Homo sapiens: one gene and its partner. The protein of the gene in region 1 purifies or fractionates together with the protein of each later gene. This does not show direct contact. Each region holds a gene or a part of one and is shown on either strand. Other genes may lie near its edges. The genes, in order: HPS4 and ARHGEF35.

Evidence for each region.
Region 2: the proteins of HPS4 (region 1) and ARHGEF35 purify together in Homo sapiens (co-immunoprecipitation; one large-scale study listed by IntAct). This does not show direct contact.

The regions. Positions count from the first base shown.
Region 1 is NC_000022.11:26,459,524-26,463,338, reverse strand, and holds part of HPS4 (BLOC-3 complex member HPS4), read left to right. Parts: intron 1-3,815.
Region 2 is NC_000007.14:144,192,888-144,197,208, reverse strand, and holds the start of ARHGEF35 (rho guanine nucleotide exchange factor 35), read left to right. Parts: upstream 1-1,375; 5' UTR 1,376-1,671; exon of another isoform or gene 1,672-1,888; intron 1,889-4,321.

The DNA of each region.
Region 1 (3,815 bases):
AAACCCAGTGTTTCCCTCCATAGCCCCAGCATCGTACCTGATCTGAAGCTCCTTCCTAGAAGGCTGGGATGTCTGAAATCCTGCCTGGCTCTGGAGGGCTCTTAAACTATTGCAGCCCCTTCCCCGCTTAGAGGCTTAGAGTGGTAAACTGACCTTCCCTGGGGCCCACGCTGGAGATTCGTTGCTATAGTAACAGCCTTGCTTTAGTAGGCAGGGAAAGTGGTAGCAGTAAGAACAGCAGGTTGAAATTGCTGCAGGGCAAATGGTGTCTTGGGGCTTTCCTTGTTTTTATTCTTAAATGTGTATTATTCTAAGCTGATCTTACTATCATGCAGGGCTTGTGACCCTCCATAAATGAGCTAGTCACCTTGAAATACAGAAGAAGAGATAAGACTGCACAGCAGCTTCCTTGCACAGAGCTCCTAGCAAGAGAATGCTCTCTGGAGCTGTCAGGCTTCTCTGTGCCCTTTCCACAGACGCTGGATCACTGAGTTATGGCTCATTTGCTTCCTGTATCCCCATTCACCATAGCTAGGAGTGACTATCCATCTCCTTCTTATAGCAGTGCGGGGAGTTGTGGCTGCAGTGTTAAATGCCTCATCTCCCTGCCAATGCCTTGGTTTTCATGGTCTGTTCTGCACAGTGTCGAGCCTTGGAAGTGTCATTTTGAAGGGCCCAGTGTTTGAATGCAATAAAGTGGATATAATACCTCTCTTTTTACCTTCCCCCACAAAAAGGAAAAAATAGCCCAGGCTGCTCTTTGAGATGTATTCTGCACCAACTATATGTGAAATACTTCGCATCTCTCGTTTTAGCCAAGCCTTAGAACAGTTCTGGGAAGGAGGCATTGTAACTCCCATTTTACCAGTAAGAAAACAGCCTCATTGAGATGAAAAGACTTCCTGCAAGTGGCAGGTCCAGAATTCTTGCTTGTTTCTGGTTCCCCACCCCAGCCTCTCTGTCCCCCCACTGCCCTGCCCTTGCAGTGATAGCTGGGAAGCTGAAGAAAGGGGGTCAGTGTCCTGCCTTCTGTGGCTCGTGCTCTATGGCCATATCCCCTGGTTTGTCAAGGTCTATCCATGCTGTTACGACATCAGCCTCCATGGGCTTCTGTGGAAAGCAGGGTTTGATGCTGGCTAGGCCCCGGGAAATAGACTGCAGTTTTATGGAAGAGAAAAAGCTAATCTTTTCTTCTTTTTTTTTTTTTTTTTTGAGATGGAGTTCCGCTCTTGTTGCCCAGGCTGGAGTACAATGGTGTGATCTGAGCTCACTGCAACCTCCGCCTCCCCGGTTCAAGCGGTTCTCCTACCTCAACCTCCTGAGTAGCTGGGATTACAGGCATGTGCCACCAGGCCCGGCTAATTTTGTATTTTTAGTAGAGACGGGGTTTCTCCATGTTGGTCAGGCTGGTCTCGAACTCCTGACCTCAGGTAATCTGCCCGCCTCGGCCTCCCAAAGTGCTGGGATTACAGGCATGATTGCACCCATCCCTGAAAAGCTAATCTTTTCTAGTATGGAGTGACTAACTTTGATCAGCCCACTGGTTTGAGAGTGGGTTTGTTAATCAGACCCAAAGGATTTCTGTTTTATAATCAGGAAGAGGTGTTTGATTGCCTTTTTGTCCCAGACTAGCCTTGAAAATACTTTATCTGATTTCCCTGCAGCCCCTCTGCTACTGTCTAGAAAAACCAAATACCCCCAGTTACGGTGAGCACACCCCTTTTGCAAGGGCTCCTTAATGATGTTACATACTGCCAAGCTGCCCTTGTGTCATTTGGCTGTCTTGTCTTTGGGTGGATCAGCTTCCACAGGGAGTAGGGGTAGGGTGAGGGGCAGCAGGGGTTGGGATTGGTGAAAGGAGCCCTGGGTGGAGCAGCCAGGAGGGTTGGGATTGGGGCTGGAATTCCCTCAGAGGGAGTGGAATAGGCTCACACCAGGGGGCAGCATAGAGCCGCTGATAGTCCATTACTCAGACCCCAAGATAATCTCCTTGACCTTCAAACACAGTGATCAGATTAATTATTTATCACTACAATAGGACATGGAGCTTCTGTGTACAGTACATGAGGCTTGAAGTTAGTGTGAGAGTGTTGCCATAAAACATTTTATGAAAAAACACCTTCCCCCAACTGGGAAACCGGTATCTCTAAGTGAATGTGTGTTCCATGCATTGCTCCTGCTGCACGCTGTGTCACACACTGACATTTGTGCCACTTGCTTTCGTGTGCACTAGAAGTCAGAGGACCCGGGAATTAGCCTCAGCTCTGTGTTGCCTAGGGCTGTTGTGAGGATCACATTATGTAGCAGTATATATCGGTGGCTGGCAAACATTTTATGTAAAGGACCAGAAAGCAAATATTTTCAGCTTTGCACAGCTTTTCAGCTCTGCTGTTGCAGTACAAAAACAGCCATAGACAGTATATAAATGGTATGACTGTATTCCAGTAATTATTTATGGACATGGAATTGGAACTTCATATAATTTGCACATGTTACAATATTATTCTTTTGACTTTTTTCCCCAACCAAGTAAAAAAATATAAAAACCATTCTTAGGTCTCAGACTGTACAAAGATAGGCAACAGGCTGGATTTAGTTTATAGGCTAGAGTTTGCTGACCCCTGGTATGTATGAAAGCACTTGGTTATCAGTAAAAATTATCCACATGTCATCTGACATAGCATCTTGTGATTAACTGTGTTTTTATGGTTAAGTGATCCTATCTTGAGTGCAAGTTAGGCAGAAGATTTTGGAAGCAAAGCTCCGTGCCTGTGGGGAAACAGTTTTTGGCATGGCTCACTCTCTGTTCTTATTGTTTCTTCCTCTGGACACCAGCTCAGCATGGAAGGGATGACTGTTAGCACGTTCTTGAGGTCCAAAAACTTTCAGTGAGGCTGTGGTTTGACTTCATCAGGTGAATGCTTATGTGTGCCCGTGTGCGTGTCGGCACATGCACACACACACATCTGTTCAAATAAGAGGCTCAGTGTTAAACGCAGTGTTGGTCAGGCTCTCTCAGTGATCTGAACATGAGATATTATGATTGTCTTTCCTGAGCACATATCTTTTTACATAGCTCTGCAACCTTGGTTTAAACCAAATAGCTCATAAATTGGCAGTGCTTGGCATTGGATGTGTTCATTTATTCATTCATTTAGTGGATTCATTTATTGAGCACCTACTAGGAGTCAGACACTCTACTAAGCATTGAGGATACAAAACTGAGCGCATAGAAAATAACTTTGTATGTCACACCTATTGACTTGAAATATCATTTCTGAGACTTTCATACAGGAAAACTGATTTAACACCAATATACTCCCAAAATAACATGTAAGCTTCATGACATTTACTTCAGAAGCATTCTGTTTGCATCTCTGTACTTTTTATATGCACTTATTTTTCTTACATAGCTGTTGAAAAATAGTCCACAAATTATCTGTGATCTCTAAAGAGACACCATTTCTTTTATATGATTATTTTCATTTCCTTGACTTTATAAAAAGACTCTGCCTCAGGATAGCACTTTAGAGTTTACAAAGGACTTTTGGATGTGTCATTTCATTTAAGTCACTCAATAGTCCCGTACTGTTCCCATTTTGCAGTTGACTAGAAAAATGAGGCACAGAAAACTTGGTAACTTGCTCCTGGTCATTTGACTAAAAAGAGGCTGAACTTGGGATGTTTTTTACCTGGGAACTGCAAATGTTTGGGGACAGTGACCTTCTTTCTTGTGGCTGAAGCAGGCCCAGGAAACCCCATTTCAGACCAAGCCTATTATGACAGGCCTGGCCTACTGAGTCAAGCCCTCAGTG
Region 2 (4,321 bases), on another chromosome or scaffold:
CAGGATCATTGGCAACAGCCAATGGGCACAGTGATCTAGAAATGGTCTAGCCAAGCTGTTTGGGCTGTAGACCATGGCATTCCTAAGAGCTAAATAGGCAAGGAGTCCATTAATATTTCACTTGACTTATGTCACCATGGAAACCCCTGGAGTAGTGAATGGCTTTGGGGAGTGGTCAGATTCAACCAAAAATAACAGAAATCTCTGTCCCCCAGGTAAAGGATTCCTACTTTGTGTGTGTCTGTGTGTGCACACAGGCACACTCGAGAGACTTTTGGCATTCTTTGAAGTCACTGGAGGGGCACAGAGATAAACCCACTCAGCCTTGGCCTCCAAGACTAACAGAACAAAACGTTTCCCTGAAAGAATAAAAAAAAAATACAGGCATAAGAAAACACACAAACATGGGCTTAGAGATTTAAATACACACACACACACACACACACACACACACACACACAGGCCCTAGAAGGAACATACACCCTGAGATACGCACTCATTCTAAAATAAACTCGGGAATACAGAAGGACACGGGCATGTCCTTTCAGAGAGGCACACTTCTAGGCCCTAAGTAGGAGAAGGAAGAGGGGAGAGGAAGAGGCAGGGAGAGGGACAGGGAGGGGGGAGGAGGGAGGGAGAGAGAGAGAGAAACGAAGAAGGGGGCGGAGGAGGAGATGGAGGAGACACTCTTTATTCTATAGGAGGAGACATCACGGAAGAGAAATCAACACTGAGGCCTTGGCCGGGCGCGGTGGCTCACGCCTGTAATCCCAGCACTTTGGGAGGCCGAGGCGGGTGCATCACCTGAGGTCAGGAGTTTCCAGACCAGCCTGGCCAACATGGCGAAACCCGGCCTCTACTAAAAAATACAAAAATTAGCCGGGCATGGTGGCGCGGACCTGTAATCCCAGCTACTCGGGAGGCTGAGGCAGGAGAATCTCTTGAACCCGGAGACGGAGGTTGCAGTGAGCCGAGATCGCGCCATTGCACTCCAGCCTGGGCAACAGGGCGAGACTCCGTCTCAGAAAAAACAACAACAACAACAACAACGAACAAACCAAAAACCAATGAGGCCTGAAGATAAAGACACATGTACAACCACGGATGTCAGACTTCCAGAGGCACGGCCAAGGCAAAAGACAAACACATACAGACTGCAGCAGGCAGACAGGCCGGTTCCAGAGTCAGGCTCCGGTGAAGCTCCGAAGAAACAAACACGCAGGGAGATTTCGGAGGCGTCCGAGGACACCGTGGGGCCCGGCTGGCTCCCTCTGTCTCTGTGCGCGCCCCTTCCCCGGGTCACCCCGCCTGCGCCCGACCTGCGCCCGCGCACCGCGCCCTCGGGGCTCCCTGGGACAGCCCGCGGCCTGGCCCGTGCGCCCGGGCTCCCCTCTCCGCCGGCCCGGCACTTCCCAGCTCTGACGCGGGAGCTTCTTTCACACCAATGGGGCTCGCGCGCGGAGGGGCCCTGCCCCTCCTCCGGGAAGGTGTGTCCCTGTTTCCTCACCTGAAACTTCCTAGGAGAACCCGATCCCTCCCTCCCGTCGGGCGGCCAGGGGCGGGCCGCGGGTGGGGCGGCCGGGCCTGCGCTGGGGACGGCTCTGGGGACTGCGGCCGGCGCCGGGACCTGGAGGGGACGCTGGGGCCGAAGCAGCATGTGACACCGACCAGGTGGGTGCCCTCCTCCCGTCTCGGCCCTGGGCTCCCGGCGGCTGTGGAGCCCGGCGGAGGTGGGGCAGGGACAGGAAGGAAGAGGAAGCCAGGCCTTTCCCAGGGATCAGCCCCCGCTGGGTCCGGGGCGCAGGCTCCGGAAATGGGGGGGCTGGGCCCGCAGGCAGGGCTCGGGGTGTGTGGCTGAGGACCCTGGTGGGGAAGAGGAGAGGAACTAGAGGAAATGTTGTTGCCTACAAGTTTGCTTCCGGTCGGGTCCCGCCTAGGAAATGGGCACCCTGCCCCCAGACGTTCCCCGGGCCAATAATCAGGGCTCTTTCTTCAAAGTAGGCGCCCTGGGGAAAGCTAAGCCATATCAGAAGGAATAACTGAGATTCCCTTTCTAGGCTGTTCCTTACCTGGAGAGGTTTTATCGGCTCCTTTTCCTTAACCAGGCCGGGGCCTTTCCTTATGTATCTCCATAGGTATTTGCATACTGTGTGAGTCTATGTGTAGCTTCTCTCCGTGTTAACCAAAGCTCCGTAACCTGGAACAGTGAATCCTGCCCTGCCCCTCACCCCAGTTCCCTACATATGGGGAGCCTCCTAAAGCTTGATGTGAATCACAACGTTGCATTCTTAGCAAGGTGGAAAGAAGTTATTTAGAGTTGGGGGCTGAGGTAGGCGTTGGGGTGCTAGAATGCGGACGCAGAGCTCTAGAACCCCTGAGCATCTTTTGCAGTTGCCTTCCGGCAAGACTACCGGAGGAGAGCCAGTTGTGATACTACGTCATTTCCAGATCTCAGTCCCTTTCTTCCCTTCCTGGATCTTGGGTTCCAAAGACAGATTTGCCCTCCTGTCTACCTAGAAGTGAACTCTGGCCAGGACTCTTGTCTGGTTGAGAGAGAAGGGTGTGTCAAACAGATGAGAGAGGGTGGTTTTCCTTTCGAGCTTCCTCCCTAGCTTGCTCCCCTACTGCACTCCACTGTCTGGCCTTGCATCTTGGGCCTAATCCAGAGGTCCCAGCTCCAGCTAAAAAGCTCTTGATGTGGCCTCTGTCTCAGACGTCTTGTTTTATCCACATTTGGAGCATGAAGAAGTTCCTGGCATAGGCCTTAGCAAAATGGGTGTCATTTGTTAACCAATCTGTGGGCCTAAAAGTGAAGCCATGGCTAGTGAAGGAGTCCTGGGGAGCTGGGAAGATGGGATGAGGGCGTGTCAGTTCTGGGTGAGACTGATATGCAGGAGGAATGTATGTCATGGTCCTAGTGGGGAGGAGAGAGAAATCAGGAGGAGTGCAAAGGAATCCCTCTCATCAACAGAATATAGTGATTCTCAATAGAGAGAAGAGTGTTCATATATTAGAGGTCCTGAGAGTGTATCAGTGCCCTTAACGCGGTCTGTCTGAGGTTCCGTGGCCACGTTACACGTGGTGTCTGTGGGATAGACAGGAATACGTCATTTGTGGTGTCTGGAGAGGTCAGTCGCTATGTGGTATGGACAGGAATGGAGTCACTCGTAGGGTCTTGGGTTCAACGGGAGCAGCATTACTCAAGTGTCAGTGGTGTAGACAAACAGGTGACCAACAGCTCTAGTGTAGACAGGGGCTGGGTCACTCACAGTGTCTGTGGAGTAAGCAGGAGCCGATCACTTATAGTGCCTGCAAGGTAGACTGGAACAAAGTCACCCTCAAGGTCTATGTTAATACACAAACACGTCACTCACACTAATGTTATCTGTGTGGATGCCACCAGGACCACAGATGAGATTGTAGAGTGTAAGTCAGCATTGACACTAATAATGTTCTTATATAAACTATCTGGTCTATAAGGCAGTTGGTGTGACATTTTCAGACATTAGAGAATAGATAAATGTGTATTACAGCTTTCACTGGCATGGTGGGACTTTCCTGCAATGGATAGAACACACATTGTAGTAGTCAGTGGTCCAGAAAGCTACCCCTGTTTTGATATCTTTGTAGTATTGAGGGCAGTGATGTCAAACAGTGAATAAAGTTATATATCTATGTGGTGATCTTATTTTAACCTCAATATTATTTTAGTGATTTGTAAGTCAGAATATTTGAAATCAACCTTGCTAGAAAATCCAGGAAGCATGGTCCTCAAAAATATATATATGGCACTGAGTCTCAGTTCAAAGATTTGGCAGTTTGATTGGGGAGGGGTTGTATCCTTGAAATACAGTGTTGTTTCTAGTGACTAGAAATAGACAAGAGCTAAGGTGTTGGTGGGGGGGCTCTAGGGAAGATAGTGAGCTCTGTCACACATTATGTTAAAGGGATGACTTGAAGCTTTGCCTCTCAAGAAGTCACACGTGGGTGAGGTTATGTGGATGCAGAATGTCTGTGGTCTGAAGCAAGGCCGTATCCCCATAATCCCATGCCCTGGCTTTGCCTGTACACAGATAAACAGTGATTATTCACCCTCAGTGGAGAAGGAGATGAGGATGTTTGCACTCTAACGTAATGAGCATTGCAAAAAACTCTCTCCTGATGCCTTTACGTGAGTAAGACCATGATTTACAGATTTCCTTTCACTTTGTCACATTTTAGCTTTGTCATGCCTGATTGCAACGGGATCACTGAGATAGGATCAAGTATAGGGAACGTGGGGTATGTTCTCCCTTTGCGGTAACTGGTGGCTGAGCAGGTG